Regions from separate parts of the Homo sapiens genome. Here region 2 is linked to region 1. The links come from fine-mapping of genetic effects on gene expression. Tissue or cell type: putamen. Region 1 holds a variant in brackets; the other region holds the start of a gene. All regions are shown on one strand. Distances are between the middles of the regions.

Region 1 (8,102 bases):
TTGCTCTGCTGCAGATCTGAATACTCTTGGGGCCAAGCCTTATTCTCCAAAACCCAGGCCCTGCAGGTAGGGGATCCCAAAGCCAAAGCCCTTGTGAGGTGGCGTTGGACTTGTTCTTGTCACCTGCTGACACATCTGGTCCTGCGAGAAGGAAGTGGATTCTAGAAGCAGTGCCTGTTCCGGAGCAGCTGCCTTGCTGAGTGACAGGGTGCACCCAGCGGCAGCTGCACAGCTTCTCAAGCTACCGGATCCTGCTCTTTGCCAAAGAGGACCTGAGGCTCCTCCCGGGATAGGAGGGTCCGGGCTCTGCCCACTGCTCCCGGTCACCCTCTGCCTCTGCACAGGGCACCCCAGGGCCTGTGGAGGGGATGTCCACAATGTTGGCAGAGCCTGGGTCCTTCGCCAGCTGGAGCTCTGCTCAGCCACTGAGCTGGGAGGAAACAACCCCTTGCCCAGAGCTGGCTGGAGGGGTCAGCACGCACAGCTGCTGGAGTTACCCTCTGCACCAAGTATCACCAGAAACGGGCATGCTGCTGTCCTGGACAGCGGCCTCATGACCTGCTTACATTTTTAAAAACTTGTGAAATATCTGAAACAAAAAAGCAAATATGTGTAAAATATATATGAAATATATTCTGTAAAATAATGTTTGACTCCAGTGCACACACAACCCAATTCAAAACCAGATCAACTTCCTGCTGATCTGATGGCCTGCCCTCCGCCTTGGCCCAGAGGGAACAGTTTATGTTTTTATTGATCATTCCCTTGCCTTTTAAAAGGGTTTATCATATATATGTGTATAATTGTGTGTATACATTTATTTCAAGAGATACATTTTCTTTAAGGCTTGTCTGTGAGATTTATAAACTAGTCTTCCACCACATGTAATCTCCTACAGCTTACTTGGTTGACGCTTCAAATCTCTCAGCTTCATTCATGCCATGGCTCCAATTGTTCATGTTCTCAGCTGCATAGTATTCCATCATGTGAACATGCCACTCTGCATTTCTTCGTTTTTCTTCATACAGATGTTTGGGTTGATTACGGTTTTTCATAAACAGCTGTGCTGTGGATGGCACTCCTGCAGCTGGTGCCTGTGCACACGTGCAGAGCTTCTCTAGGGGAATGTGCTCGGGAGAGGAATGGCTGCTCAGAGGGCGGGGGTATCCTGAACTCCATGGGATGATACCAAGTGACCATCCAACATCCTTCTTGGAACATTTAACCAGAGTGAGCTCTAAGTGTGCATGGGTATTTGTAGGGGATCTAGGCTTGACTCTAGAACGATAAGGAAGGGGCGTCATTACCTAGCAGGATCAGCACAGATGTTGGGGTGATGGACTCAGGCCCTAGTCTAGACATCCTGGTGAAAAGTGAGGTGATTCAGGGCAAAGCACTTACCTGTCCTGGGATGGCGGAGATACAGTATCTAACAGGATGTTGTGGGCGTCAGGGGTCTCAATATATGTGGAGGTGCTTGATCAAGAGCAGACATGTTGGCTTTTGTTGATGATGTTACCTGTTTCCTAAAACACTTGCTAAAGATGCCAGTGCCCTGATGTAGAGACCAACACGAGGAAAGTGGCCTGATCAGACCACGCCAAGCTGTTCACACCCCCTTGAGAGTCCTGGGCTGATCATTCAGGCTTGACAGCAGCATGAGGAGCACAAAAGACTGAAATGAGCAGCTCCTAGAGGACGCCTCCCCCAGTGCTGGACGGCACGGGGGTTCTCTCTCGGAACCAAGGCCTGGCCAGGCCGTGCCCAGCACACCCACTACCTGGCTTTTCACTTCTGTTGTGACTCAGTTGTTTTCTGCACCATTTGGTCACAAATTCTGTTTTCATTTTTTTTCTTCTTTGAGACAGAGTCTCACTCAGTCACCCGAGCTGGAGTTCAGTAGCGTGATCTGGGCTCACTGCAACCTCTGCCTCCCAGGTTCAAACTATTCTCCTGCCTCAGCCTTCTGAGTAGCTAAGACTACAGGCACATGTCATCATGCCTGGCTAATGTTTTGTATTTTTAGTACTAATGGGGTTTCAACATGTTGGCCAGGCTGGTCTCAAACTCCTGACCTCGGATGATCCACCTGTCTCAGCCTCCCAAAGTGCTGCGATTACGGGCATGAGCCACCGTGTCAGGCCCCCAAATTCTTTTTTTTTTTTTTTAATAACTTAAAACAGTTCTTTTCAGAAATGCTTTTCTCCAGCTGGTTTGTCAGAACCACATTCCTGCAAGGTTGGGCCAGAATGCTGTGCCCCGAGCAGCTCCATCTACTCTGCCAACAGCAGCCCTCCAGCCTCTGCGGGAAGCACGCCTCCCCACGCCAACACCCTGTAGACTCCTGGCCCCGTGGACTGTCAGGCAGTTATTTTGGCCTGGGACGTGGCTCTGCTAACTGGCTGCTGTGTTTTTCCAGTTGTGAGAAGAGCTTCCAGGGGAGTTCTTCAGATAATCATCATCTTGATCTTAAATGTAAATATTGTCACCGTGGTTTAAAGAGAGATTAATGATTTGCCGACAGCTCCATACATCCTTAGGAAGTGAACACTTGATTGTCTATCTTATTTCCAATAATACTAGAGGAAAAGGCACACCCTACAGGTGGCTGCAGGTGCCACCGGAGCTTGGAGCGAGTGAAGGCCGAGCCTCGGACTCGGGTATCATTTCTGAATAGCTCGCCAACTGTGAAGGAAGTTCTGCGGTTCTCTGTCACGGAGGAAAACAGCAGTGAGTGCCATCCGCCAGGCTGTGTGCCAGGTGTCCCGTAATCCCGTCTTTACCTTCTGGAGGAGCTGCGAGGCGGCGTCATTAGCTCCGTTTCAGAGAAGAGAAGGCGGAGGGCAAAGCAGGTTTGCTGAGGCATGGCCAGTCATGGGCAGTGTCCAGAGCCAAACCCGGGGCTTGCCACATCCGGCTCCCCTGACCTCGGCCACCACCAGTCTGTGGAAGCCCAGGCACTCCCAGGGGGAAGCTCCAGCCCTCAGGCCATGTCAGCACCTCCCTGTGGCTCCGACGGGCTCTGAGCCCATGGTCCCCTGACCTGGCTGCCCCTGCCTCAAGGTGCCGGGGTAGCAAGGCAGATGGCCCCTGGATAGTTCCCTTTTTGTTGTCCCCACGTGGCCTACAGCTGGCTAAGCAGGGCAGGGTGTGTGGCCGGCAGCCCTGGGGCTTCAGAACAGGTGTCTCAATTATGCCACCGCCTCCAAGACCCATCCCTCCTGATGCAGCCAGGCCCGCGGCTCTACCAGGGACACTGTGCGAGCATCAATGCCGGGAGGACTGGGACATTACACTCTACATCTGAATTTCTTATATTTTCCAAGTGTTCTACACTAATTAGTTAGTTCTGTTAGCTCTAAGGATTAGTAGCTTCTCTAACAAGACACAGCGACATTAAGTGACTTACCTAATTATGTAAAACACGGGGACACTAGACGAGAAGGCAAGCTTTCCTCGAGCTGGGCTCAGGCCTGCTCCGCCCCACTGCAGCGCCCATCCGTCTTCTTTCTCTGGGTCCCCAGGGCACAGGAAACAGGAACCGCAGGTCTGGCCTCAGAGACTACTCCACACGGAGTGTTGCCACACCTA[C/T]GTCCTCGGGCCTGCCCTCCTTACGGCCTGCCTCCTTGGCCAGGACCACAGGGCCTCTCAGATGCTTCCTGGACAGAGGAGCTGACTTGAAAGAGAGCCTGTCCCAGGGCAGTAGGTGCTGGGCAGGCCTGGAGGCTCCATCACATGTGGCCGGGGTGCTGGGCCCACTGTGTCCCCTGTGAAAGAGAGTAGATGACCACCACGTCCTGCTGTCCTCTGACTGGTCACCATCTGAAATGTCACTAAGAACTGGCCCCACATTGCCTGTGCTCATGGCAAAGGGGTCTGCCCTCTCCCAGCCTGGCCCTCCAGTCCCCAAGTCTCATCTTGTAGGGACCGTGGCACCTGGGCCCTCCTCTCCTCTTCCCTGGAGTCCAGTTGCTTCTTTTACTCAAGATGCCCTCTATGTCCTGCCCAGCTCCAGCTGATGCAGTTTGATTGCCACCTCCTTCAGGACGCCCCTCTTCATTTTCTAGTTCACCCTTTCCCCTCCCTCTGAGACCTCACAGCCCTGAAGTGATACTGCATTTATGTTGATGTGCTATCTGATGACAGGCTGGGCATGACCTCACCTGGAGTATTTGTGCTCAGCTGCCCTGCAAGTGGAGAGGCGAAGCTGATAAACAGCTGGTCAAGCACGTGACACCAGTCACGTGGTCAGATGCGTGGGCCCATGCTGTCTTCTTAGTACATGTGTCAGGGTCCTTCCTCTTCACCCAGTAAGTGTGTTCTTTTATGATTACAAACATAATGCATTTCCATGGCAAAAATTGAGAATGTACAGTTAAGCACACAAAAAATGAAGTGATTTCCTCGTGCTGAGATAATCACTGAAGCACCTTGCTCTGCAGATGGTCTTTTTAAAAAATGTTACAACATGGCCATATATATAGTTTTAAAACACAATCATGGATCATATTTTCAAAGTGATAACAACTATTTCTTTCTTAGAAAATAAAGACATTTTTATAAGAGTTGAATAACTCTGAAAAGCAACACAACACACACACAGACACACTCACTCACAGACACACAAAGCAATTCTTCCCAACTCACTCACACACAGGCCCACACACCAAAGCGACTCTGCACAACTCACTCACACACAGGCCCACACACCAAAGTAATTCTCCCCAACTCACTCACACATAGGCACACAACCAAAGCAGCTCTCTCCAACTGTCCAACTTCCACTAAGATGTCTTCCTGCAAATAATCTGATGATCTCTCTTCCACAATTTTATGTCTGTAAGCACAATTTAAAAATTTAGTTTAATAAAACACCACTGATCGTACCTGATGTTTTCTTTTCTTTTTTTTTTTTTGAGACAGAGTCTTGCTCTGTCACCCAGGCTGGAGTGCAGTGGTGCGATCTCGGCTCACTGCAAGCTCTGCCTCCCAGGTTCATGTCATTCTCCTGCCTCAGCCTCCCAAGTAGCTGAGACTACAGGCGCCCGCCACCATGCCCAGCTAATTTTTTTTTGTATTTTTAGTAGAGACGGGGTTTCACCGTGTCAGCCAGGATGGTCTCGATCTCCTGACTTTGTGATCTGCCCGCCTCGGCCTCCCAAAGTGCTGGGATTACAGACGTGAGCCACCGCACCCAGCCTGATGTTTTCTTATATGCCTTTTTCACTCAGCAGTGAGTCATGACTACCTTCCCATGTCAGTAAATAGAGGGCTACTCTACCACGTTTAATAGCAGAATTGTTCTGTGTTGTGTGGACATATTTACTGGGATGTATCCAGCCAACCCCATGCCCATGGGACATTTGTGCTGTTCCCCATTTGTTGCTGTTACAAACAACAGTGCCATGTGTATCCTTGTAGCTACAGCCTTATATACTCATGGAAATAACTCTGTAGAATAGATTCCTAAAAGTGGAATTGTTTGGTCAAATGGCATAGGCATTTACCATTTTAATCAATACTGCCTCACTACCCTCCAAAAACATGCCAACATTACTACCAACAGTGAATGCCTGCCCCTTCTCTACACTGTGGACAAAGAATTACACGTCGTTTGCATTTTTCACCCAGATCACAACAAAATGCTATCTCCTGCTTTAATTTGTCATGCTATGATCACTCGTGAGGTGGGAGGTCCCCTGGAGGTCACTCCAGGTGATCACTCTCAAGCTTACTGGGTCCTTCTGCTGCTCTTTCTAGAGGCTTCCAGCTGCTGCTTGTATGTTTCCCTTTACGAAGTGCCTGTCTATATTCCTTGCTCATCTATCTTCTGGGTGGTTTGCCTTTTCCTTATTGATTTGTAGAAGTTTTTTATATATTGTGGACACAATCTTTCTGTCTTACATGTTGCCAATGGTTTCTCCTAGGGTACCATTTGTCTTCTGTTTCCAACAGGTTCATGAGGTCAGGCAAGTCAACCTTCTTCTTTATGACTTCTGAGTTCTTTTTTTTTGAGATGGAGTCTCGCTGTGTCACCCAGGCTAGAGTGCTGGAGTGCAGTGGCTCGATCTCGGCTCACTGCAAGCTCCACCTCCCGGGTCCACGCCATTCTCCTGCCTCATCCTCCCGAGTAGCTGGGACTACAGGCGCCCGCCACTACGCCCAGCTAATTTTTTCTATTTTTTAGTAGAGATGGGGTTTCACTGTGTTAGCCAGGATGGTCTCGATCTCCTGACCTCGTGATCCGCCCACCTTTGCCTCCCAGAGTGCTCGGATTACAGGCGTGAGCCACTGTGCCCGGCCAGCTTCTGAGTTCTTGCCGTGTTCTCAGGCACTTCCTGCAAATGCAGACATGGATGCATGTTTCTCCTATTTTCAGCTGATACAGTAACAGTTAAAACCCAATTTAACAAATGTTTAGAACCCTAAGGTTTCTGGAATTGCGTTATTTCCAAATAGCTTGGCCAGTTTGTCCTGATACCATGTATTAAATGACTCCTTTCCCCACGGAACTGAAATGCCATATGATGACATCCTGAGATTCCACAGACCTGTGGCTGTTTCTGGACGGGCCAGTTGGCTCCATTGATCTACTTATGTCTGTTGTGGCATTGGCCCTACAATGCTTTATTTACAGTGGCTTTAGGATTCATTTTGATGCCATTAGTATTAAAAATGTACCTTGCTGTTTTTGAGCAAATACATGTCCCCAGTGACCAAGCTTAGCTGTGAATGTTGTCGTGGACATCAGAGGCAGGCCTAGCCAGTGGGGGGCATGGGCTTTGGGAATCCTTATTTGTTGCTGCTTTTAAAAATGTGGCTCATAAATGCCCCTGGCATTTGCTGTCAGAGAGGCCCTTCTGAGTGTCCCTGACATAGGGCACAGTCTCGCAGGGTGGCCACCTTAAGCTGCAACCCCAGTTATAGGTTCGTCAAAGATCCAGTTGTGATGTTACACACCCATGCCAGGTGCACATCACAATCCCACGAACCTCCATGTTCAACAGCTTTCCATCCAGAAAAGACGCTGCATAAATTCCCCACCCTTCAGGGACGGCCTAGGGTACTGAAGTCAGTGGTCTGGGCATTACCCCGTCATACAAAATGACAGGCACGTTGCATGGGCAACGGAAAGAACTTTCCATTAAATGCCAAAGAAGACCTGCAGGGTGGACACGTGCCTGCTTTTCCTCAGGTGAGGCAGCTGTGGCTTCTGAGAGCAAATACATCCCTGAGGGTCCCACAGCTAGGAATTAGGGACTGGAACCTGGGCTTGTCTGATGCAAAAATCTAACCTGAAGCCGCCACCACAATCTGAGCACTCTGCACATGCCAGGAAGCCAAGGAGCCGCCACCACAATCTGAGCACTCTGCACATGCCAGGAAGCCAGGTCGCCTTCACTGGAACCTGGGTATGGCCTCGTGAGGGCGGCCGCTGCCATCCCTGTTCTGCAGGTGAGGTGGCTGCAGGAGCTCCTGGGGCTGCTGCAACAAATTCCACCAACTGGGGGGATGAAAGCAGCAGAAATGTCTTCTCCTACAGTTCTGGAGTTTGTAATCAGGTGCTGGCGGGACCAGACTCCCTCCGAAGGCGTGAGGGGAGCAGTCTCCTTTCCCTCCCCCAGCTGCTGGTGACTCCAGGTGTTTCTCAGCTGGTGGCTGCCATCACTTCCATCTCTGCCTCTGTCTTTGCATGGCTTTCTCCATTGCGTCTGTGTCTTCCCCTTTTCTCTTTTTTGGAGGCAGGGTTTTTTCTCTGTCGCCCAGGCTGGGGTACAGTGGTGTTATCATAGCTCACCGTAGCCTTGACCACCTGGGCTCAAGTGATCCTCCTCCATCTTCAGCCTTCTGAGTAGTTGGGACTACAGGTGTGTGCCACCTGCCTGGCCAATCTTTAAAGTATTTTTTAGAGAGACAAGGTCTTGCTAAGTTGCCCAGACTGGTTTCAACTCCTGGCTTTAAGTAATCCTCCTGCCTTGGCATCCCAAAGTATTAGGATCACAGGCGTGAGCTGCTGCATCCGGCCCTTTTCTGTCTATTATAAGGGCAACTGTCATTGGATTTAGGACCCACCAGGATAATCCAGCATGATCTCATCTTGA
Region 2 (8,102 bases), 320 kb after region 1:
CTGTGCCTCTGAAAGTGCACCCTCACCTGAGACCAGGAAAATGCCTTGACCCAGAGGGGGATTAAAAACAAGACAACCCTCTCAAAAGGAAAGAAGGGGTGAAATATGATACGGGTTGCCCGTGCTTCGCGTGTGTTTGTAAAACTGACGCCAAAGTTTTGGTAACATCTGCATCTTGTCATAACCACAAAACTGAAAACTCAAAAGCAATAATAACATGTTGGGTTTGCAATTTGAAGAGATTCACGTCTCTCAGGAGTTACAAAACCGTACTCAGACCCATATGCACAGAAAACCTGCAGCAATGCCAACTGCCGATGGATACTTCTGGAAGGGGGACTCGGATCTTGCCTGGGCTGGAGAGTGCTACTTCCCAGAGGATCCTAAGGCCTTCCCTAGAGGTGCTCAAGCATTAGGGTCTGCCAGAATCCCCTGGCATCCCCAGGTTCTGGTCCTGTAGGTCTCCCATGGGGCCCTGCAATCGAGAGACCTCTCTAGCCAGCACCCACAGTAATTCTGATGCAGAGGGCCCAGGTCACCCTCAAACGCTCCTCCACTGTTGCCTGTGAAGATCCCACTTTACGGAGAGCAACAGGTTCAAGGGGCTGTGACTCGTCAGGCCTTGCTGGAATCGCATTCCAGTAGTGGCTCTTACCCCACACAAGCAGGAGAGACACCTGAACATGATATCCCCGGCTGCCCACCGGAGTCCTCTTGACTGGGAAGTACAATGTAGCTAAAAGTTTAAAAACAAATGATAAATAACTAGCGATTATTTATTGCATTTCAACATATAATGCCCCATCTCCTTCTCTGCCCTGAGATTCATTCACTCTCTTCACCCACCTAAATATCTCTGAACATCCCGTGCCAGAATTGCCTGATCCGTCAATAAGGCAAGCGCTTTCTAAACCTCTATGCATATGACTCAATTTGTCAGTAAAAACTGCCACCCGCGCTGTGCTTGCAGAAAAATGTCCATAAACACATTATTGCGACTGGCAGAACGATGTCTATAATAAAAACACATAGATTTAACAAGTACCTCCTTTCACAAGCCACGCCGCTGGTGGACTATCCATTCGGTGTCCCCCAGCCCAGACTTCTGGGAATGGGCGGCAGGGCTGGGTGGGAGCCTCTGCTGACTTCGCAAGCATCACAGGTAGGAAATTATTCTACCAAGAAACTTTTAGGAGTAGGAGAGTGAACACACCAGGCATTTATTGCACTCTCACCATTCCTTTCATGGTTACACACACTATGACTAATTTAACAACCCTAAGAAAATGTTTTTGTAGAATTTTTTACTGGTTTTAGAACAGCTACCTCCAGGTGGGGTGAAGGGGACACGAGGCCTCCTTGGAGAACCCTGCTCTGCTGCTGAGCCACTGATTTAACTGAAAACAACTTGTGGTGTCAAAACCAAGTTTCACCATTCAGAGCATCCGCATGGGCAGCTCCCAGGGCGGCCTATTCAGTTACTTAGCTGGAGGAGCTTCGGGAGCGCAGGCTGCTGAGGACTGGCTTTGCTGCCGGGACCGAGCACCTTGGCAGGACTCAGTGTTTGATTCCTTTCCGGGTGATCCACACCTGCCAAAGCCACTCTAATACTTCAAAGATCAACAAAGTCACAAAAATGATTTCTTCCTCTTCATAAATCACTTCAATAGCTCTATGAAGAAGTCAGTCATTCATTACATTCCATACTATATTCATTAGTTTCCCCCAAACTATGCAGCCCTCCGATATAAGCTGTACTGTTAATTTTTTTAAGTCAAAAGAAAACTAGACTATGTCCACCAACCAGCAGATATGCAGCAGTTAATGAAAAGCCACAGAACACACATCTTGCAACATTTGGTCCACAACACAAGGTCTCCAACTTCTACTTACCTATGTCCAAGACAGGCCTGCAGAGCTAACAGCGTAGGTTCACAAAATCCTCATGCCAACCAAGGACCCTCCTGCACAGCTCAAACCTCCTCCCTCCCATATAAATCCTTTCACTTCAAAACAAGAGTGGGGCGAAGGGCTGGCTTGTGCATCATGAGTGTCTATATAAAGACCACTCTCACCCCACAGTCAGGTGATGGTTTATGTGTCTTCTCTGATTTTAAATCCTTCAGGTTTCGTTTAAATAATATCCTGCGAGGCCAGGCATGGTGGCTCATGCCTATAATTCCAGCACTTTGGGAGGCCTAGGAGGGAAGATCACTTGAGTCCAGGAGTTCGAGACCACCCTAGGCAACATACGGAGACCCTGGCCTCTAAAAACAACAACAACAACAATTAGCCAGGTATGGTGGCGCACACCTGTAGTCCCTGGTACTTGGGAGGTCAAAGCAGGAGGTTCGCTTGAGCCCAGGAGCTTGAGGCTGCAGGGAGCTATGATCTCACCACTGCACTCCAGCCTGGGCGAAAGACCAAGACCTTGTCTCTAAAAATAATAAAATAATATTCTGCGGTAAGACCCCAGCTCTTTCAGAAAGTAGCTGCATTAAAAACTACTTGTCCCAGGAAACAGAGGGTCAGGAAGGACCGTAGCAACAGCCCAAGAGCCGAATGAGCACAGGGCCCTGCAGGGTCTGGGAGGCTCAATGTGTCCCCTGGAGGGACTAGAGTCCCAAACGGAAGTCAAAAATCTCAGGGCAAGTGGATCTGGACATGGAACTTTATGCTGGGGAAGGGGGTCAGAATGAAGTGCAGAAACAAGAATAATGCTAAAGGAAAAGATAATGCAGAAAATTCAGTTTTGCCTCCATTTTTTTTCTATCAAAGAGAATATACTGAAAAGAGCATTAGCACCAAAAAGAAAAATGGAAGGTCTGAATCACTGGCTCCTAAATGTGTGTCCTCTGCAAAACAGAACAGACAATTTAGTAACTTTATTTTATTATAAAATACTGAAAGAGTCAGGGTTTTGGTGTCCTAAGAAAGGGTGGGAAGAGGACTGGAGAGGAACAAACTCTGAGGGGGCAATGGGGAAGGCAAGTTCTTTTTCAGGCCCTTCCTACCCCCTTCTTCCCTGCAAAAGGACAGAGGAGGCCCTGATTGAGACACCTGGGGAGGAAACCCAAACAACGAAAAGTAAGGCCCAGGTGATATCAAAGTAAGACCTCAACAAGGTTCAAGAATCTGAGCAGCTGAACAAGGTGCTACCCAATGTATACCTAGGGCTCTATTTCTTTCAACCTTACTAACAGCAAAGCCTTTTTAAAGTAGTGCCTAATACTATTAGTTAAATCCTTATTTTGATACAGATTTTTTTGTTTCCCCTTCAGGACAGTTTCACTCTCGTCGCCCAGGTTGGAGTGCAATGGCGCAATCTCGGCTCACTGCAACCTCCGCCTCCCAGGTTCAAGCAATTCTCCTGCCTCAGTCTCCCAAGTAACTGGGATTACCAGCATGCACCACCACGCCTGGATAATTTTTGTGTTTTTAGTAGAAACTGGGTTTCACCATGTTGGCCAGGCTGGTCTCAAACTCCTGACTTCAGGTGATCCACCCACCTCGGCCTCCCAAAGTGCTGAGATTACAGGCGTGACCCACTGTGCCTGGCCCAGATTTTTTTTTTTTAATGAAGATATATACATTGAAAAGTACCTGAGTATAGCTCCGTACTGGTGGTCTACTTCATCCAGGCCCCTGACTGTGGCAGACACTACTCCACTATTCAAATTCCAACCCGAGACAGAGGGCCCAGGAAGAAAGACACGCGGCAGAGCAAGGCCAGCTCTCCTCTGCTACTTGCAGGCAGACTCCGGGTCTGGGCAAGTATCCTGGCCCTCTGAGTTAACGTGATATTAACAATCAGCCAGGCTCTTGACGCGGTTTCCTTCAAAGTTTTCACACCCCCACCCACCAGGTGCGCTAAGCTTTGGGTTTTTAAAATCTTGTTCATCTCCCAGAGTGTTTTAGCCATTGAGAGGGCCCTGAAAATAACAAAACCATCTCCTAGACACCTGCCCAGGGATGGGGGAGATGACGGGAGAGCCTGACTTAACAGATACTCTATAGGTTTCTATTTGGATGTCTATGTAAATAACCAGTCTAATTCTCAGCTCTCTGTGCTTAACATTCTACTGAGAACAGCTCTCTGGACCAAGCCGCTTCCCTGTCTGATGATGATCTCAGCAGGCATAGGTTGCACACACATGTACAAAGTCTGCTTTCCAGGACAGAAAGCCAGCTACTCAGCTGAAGCAACTGAGAGCAAACACCACCCTGAGATTTCAGGAGATGATGAACCCAGGAGTGCGAAATACATAGTTCAGAACTCCTCTGCGGTGTTATAACCGACATTACGGTGCCCAGTGTGTGTGGCTCTCCAGCGAGCCTTGCTTACTCTAAGTGTTGATGAATACAGTTAGGGTATGATGTACACAAACACCAGCCATAGTAACCAGAAGGCCCCTAGAACTTGGCCTCCAGCAGGAAGGAAATATGGGACTCTGCCTAAGTATGCTAAAGGGTTGCTGCAAGCCAAGGCCCGCGCAGGGGCTTCTGGAAGCTTCCTGGAGCAGCTGGCGGAGGGAAAGCTGGCAGCATGGAAGGGTAGGAAGAACCCGGGGCCCGGGCCTGGGGCTGGCACCTAGAGGTAAGGCAGGGGCTGCCACGACCCCCGCCACACGCCAGTCCACAGTCACTGCAGCGCAGCCTAGTCCAGGAACCCCAGGCCCGGGGAAAGGCTGGGCAACACCTGGGAGGCACTTGGGGCGCACCTGGAGCTCGCCCGGGATGGGTGGGGGTCAGGGCGGCCCCACACCCGACGGCGAAGTGAGGGCGCCTGCAGGACCACTCGAGGCTGCCACCGTCCCGAGGGAGAGCTCCGCACTCTTCCGGGAGCGAGGCGACCCAGACACTCACCAAGTCGCAAACGGTGCGCACCGCGAGGACCTGCGGGCGTCGGGACGCAAAGCGTTCTAGGGGCGCGGGCTGTCCCAGCATATCCGGGGCGCGGGGGCGGGGCCGAGGGGCACGGGGATGGCGGCGTGGGGCGGGGTCTAGAGCGGGGCGGAGCCGAGGACCTGAGAAAAGCAAGAGAGCGCGCGGGGGCGGGGCCGGGGCGCGCGGGGGCGGAGCTGGGGCGGAGCCCGGGAGGGGCGGGGTGTTCCCGCCCGACCGGGTCGGCGCATGCCCTGTGCGGCGGCGCCGGGCCTGAGGCAGTCTGCGCATCCTCGCTGGACGCCGGCACGCCGGCCCTGGTCCTCCGGCAGCGCCGCTGCCCTGTGCGCCTGACCCGGATGGCCCTTCGGCCGGTACAAGCCGGGCGGCGCCTTCCCAGCTTCCGCCTGAGGCTCTGTGCCTTAGTTTGCCAAATGGCCCGTACCTTTTCCTGTCACAGGGATAGTCCGCGGGCGTGCAAGCGACCTGCCACGTGCCCGAGTGGTCCTGAAAGCGCGCGGGGGTCGTAGGACGGCGCCCGCTTAGTGAGAATCCCGGTCCTGCTCGGGGCGGCTACGCTGAGCCCGGAGCGCGAGTCTCTCCCCTCCTGGTGCCGCTCCCCTAGTCAGGGACCCCCAGACCAGCAGAGACCCTGTCAGGGGGCCGTGGGGGCAGCCTCCAGGGCCTGTGGTGGGCGATGCCGTCCAGGGGCTGCAGTCACCGATGGCCTAGACACTGCCAGAGCCTGACTCAGCCGCTCTCCAGAGAGCACACAGGGTGCCAGGCCCTGCTTGGGGTTGTGTGGACGTTATTAGGAGTTGAATTGTGTCCACCAGAGAAGCTATGTTGGAGTCCTAACTCCCAGTACCTCACAATGTGACCTTATTTGGAGATGGGGACTTTACAGAAGCCATCAATTAGTGGGCCCCTCATCCAGTATGACTCGTGTCCTTATAGGCAGAAGGCCGCTTGGGGAGGAGGATTGGAGGGCTGCACCTGCAAGCCACCAGAAGCCTAAGAGGACAGACCCTTCCCTGGAGCCTTCGGAGGGAGCAGAGGACACTCTTCCCTGGAGCCTTCAGAGGGAGCAGGATCCTAACACACCTGGGTTTCAAACTTCTGGCCCCCGGAAGTGTGAGACAATAGGTTTCTGTTGTTTTAAGCCACTCAGTGTGTGGCACTTTATTATGGCAGCCCCAGGCAATGGGTACAGAAACCATTGTCTCTAACGTGGTTGGCATAAGCACCCCAGGGAGTAGTATCATCCCTGGAGGCTTCGGAGAGGTCACACACCCCTTGGCAGGATCCCATCCAAGGCCCACATGTTCTAAGCCACCATGCTACGGGCCTTCTAGGTTCTGTTTGTTATCTTAATGGAAAGGGGTCTTCACCTTCCCGGTGAAGTTTCCCTGTTGGGATTCGGCCAATGCTCATACCTTCGTATTTGTGACTTGCAGGATCCAACATATTAGCATGAGTGATAAGGGTTGTTCAGAGGAGAACTTCAGCAGGATTTGCTTTGGGATGAGCCCTGGTGACAATACAGGCTGCATCATTGATCCTCTGAGGTTCCCCACCCCGACCCTGCCTTGGATGAGACATGTTTTAAATAGCTGCTTGTGGGAAATAAACTAGGCCCTGAGTACACGATATAATGGTCAAATCAAGGCACTTTTTCCCCACTGAACCTGGACACAGCCTCGGAATCCTTCTCAACACTGTGTTCCAAGCAGCCATTCACATTTAAACTAATGTGGAAGGACAGATGAAACATGTTTGCCCTTGGCTCTGGTTTTTTCCATTAGCCTTCTATAAGACTTCGGGAAACTCGTCTGACTTCTCTAATCCTCAGTTTCATACTCTGTAAAGGAGTCTCATGATAACGTACCCTACGTGTGTACAAACTATCCTTCCATATTAGGGCATGTGTGCATAGGGAAAATAAACCACCAGCACCACACCACACTACTAAGAAATAATGCTATACACCTGGCCACTTACAGCCTGTTACTACCAGGACCCAGTTAGAACCGGGATCTTAATAGAACCAAAGGAAAAACAATGCCGAAATGGAATCAGAGTGCCGACTGATATTCTAACAAGTGTGCTGTTAAGTAGTTTTGCAGTTAACACATGACTCATACGTTTATCTGAATAATATTTTAAGACGAATCCCTAAACTCTTAAGAAAAAGAGACTGGCCAGTCTTAGCATCTCTAATTCCCCACCCTAGGAAAGAAAGGCCAATGTGGTCATCCAAAGGCCCTTTAGGAGGGCCCTGTGGGAATGGGGAGGCGGTCCACGAGAGAAAGTGCTGGCTTCCCAGGGAGATGTGTGGACCTGGCCCTGGCTGTACTGAAAGAACTCAGTCCCCTTGCTGGCGTGGTGGGAAGAACTATGTGAAGGGCCACAGCTACTTCAGTGGTAAGGACTGTGTCAGGGGCTCCAGGATCAGGAGCCAAATAAGGGTCTCAGTGCAGAGGGGAAAGAGGAAAAAGGCCACCACCTGACCAAGGACTGGCCTGCAAAAGACCAGGATTCAAGGATGTGACTGCTTAGGCTGTCTGATGAGCAGAACTCAAACTCACACTCCTTACACCTGCTGGTGCAAGCTCCTCCCTTCATCATGGTAATTTCAAAAACCCAAGTTTTCATCAAGAGCTCCCCACGCCTCTCCCCCTTGTCCCATTACAATCTCATCATCGCCTGTGTGTTCGTCCTACTGTTAAAGGAACACAGGATGGCTCCAAAGCCGGGAGGTCGCCGGGTCCACTGAAGAGTAAGGAACACAGGACAGGGAGGCTCGGATGTGGTGCCAGCCCTGCCCCTCACTGAGCAACCACCTGACTTCTCTGTTCATAGGATGACAGTGCAGGACTGGTTGGGTGAGATTCCTTTGAGGTCTCCCATCTTCAGATTAACAAATCACAACCCCTTTTCCTCCAGACACAGATTCCTATGAAGAACTTTTTACAAAAGAGGTGGGAAAACCACAAAAGGGTATGCTCAACTGCAGTCCGACTTCCTCAAGGAGCTCCCTGGATTTCCTTTAAGATCAGCCAGCTTTCTTGTGGGCACTGGGAACAATGTTAATCTGCATAGTTTCTTTAAACATCCAAATGGATACCTTTCGGGTTAAGCAAATGAACATGACATGCGATTGCTTCTAATGATTTGCAACCCAAGAAATTTGTTTAATAAGCCTGTCTTCCCAAGCT

What was found. PIP is the estimated chance that this variant, and not a neighbour inherited with it, causes the effect.
Region 2: MGMT starts here. The variant in region 1 is fine-mapped to the expression of MGMT in putamen (GTEx, PIP 0.91).

Annotation. Positions count from the first base shown.
Region 1 is chr10:129,780,614-129,788,715 of GRCh38, reverse strand. LOC107984281 (a long non-coding RNA gene) reads right to left here. Exons shown (of 11, transcript NR_186705.1): 2 at 3,410-3,767. Among named protein-coding and RNA genes, the nearest start is that of MIR4297, 59 kb to the left of the region's middle. The variant C/T (reference allele first, on the strand shown) is at 3,592.
Region 2 is chr10:129,464,061-129,472,162 of GRCh38, reverse strand. It overlaps MGMT (O-6-methylguanine-DNA methyltransferase), which reads right to left and starts at 4,922. Exons shown (of 5, transcript NM_002412.5): 1 at 4,867-4,922. RefSeq lists silencers at 4,623-4,822, 4,843-5,282 and an enhancer at 4,134-5,056.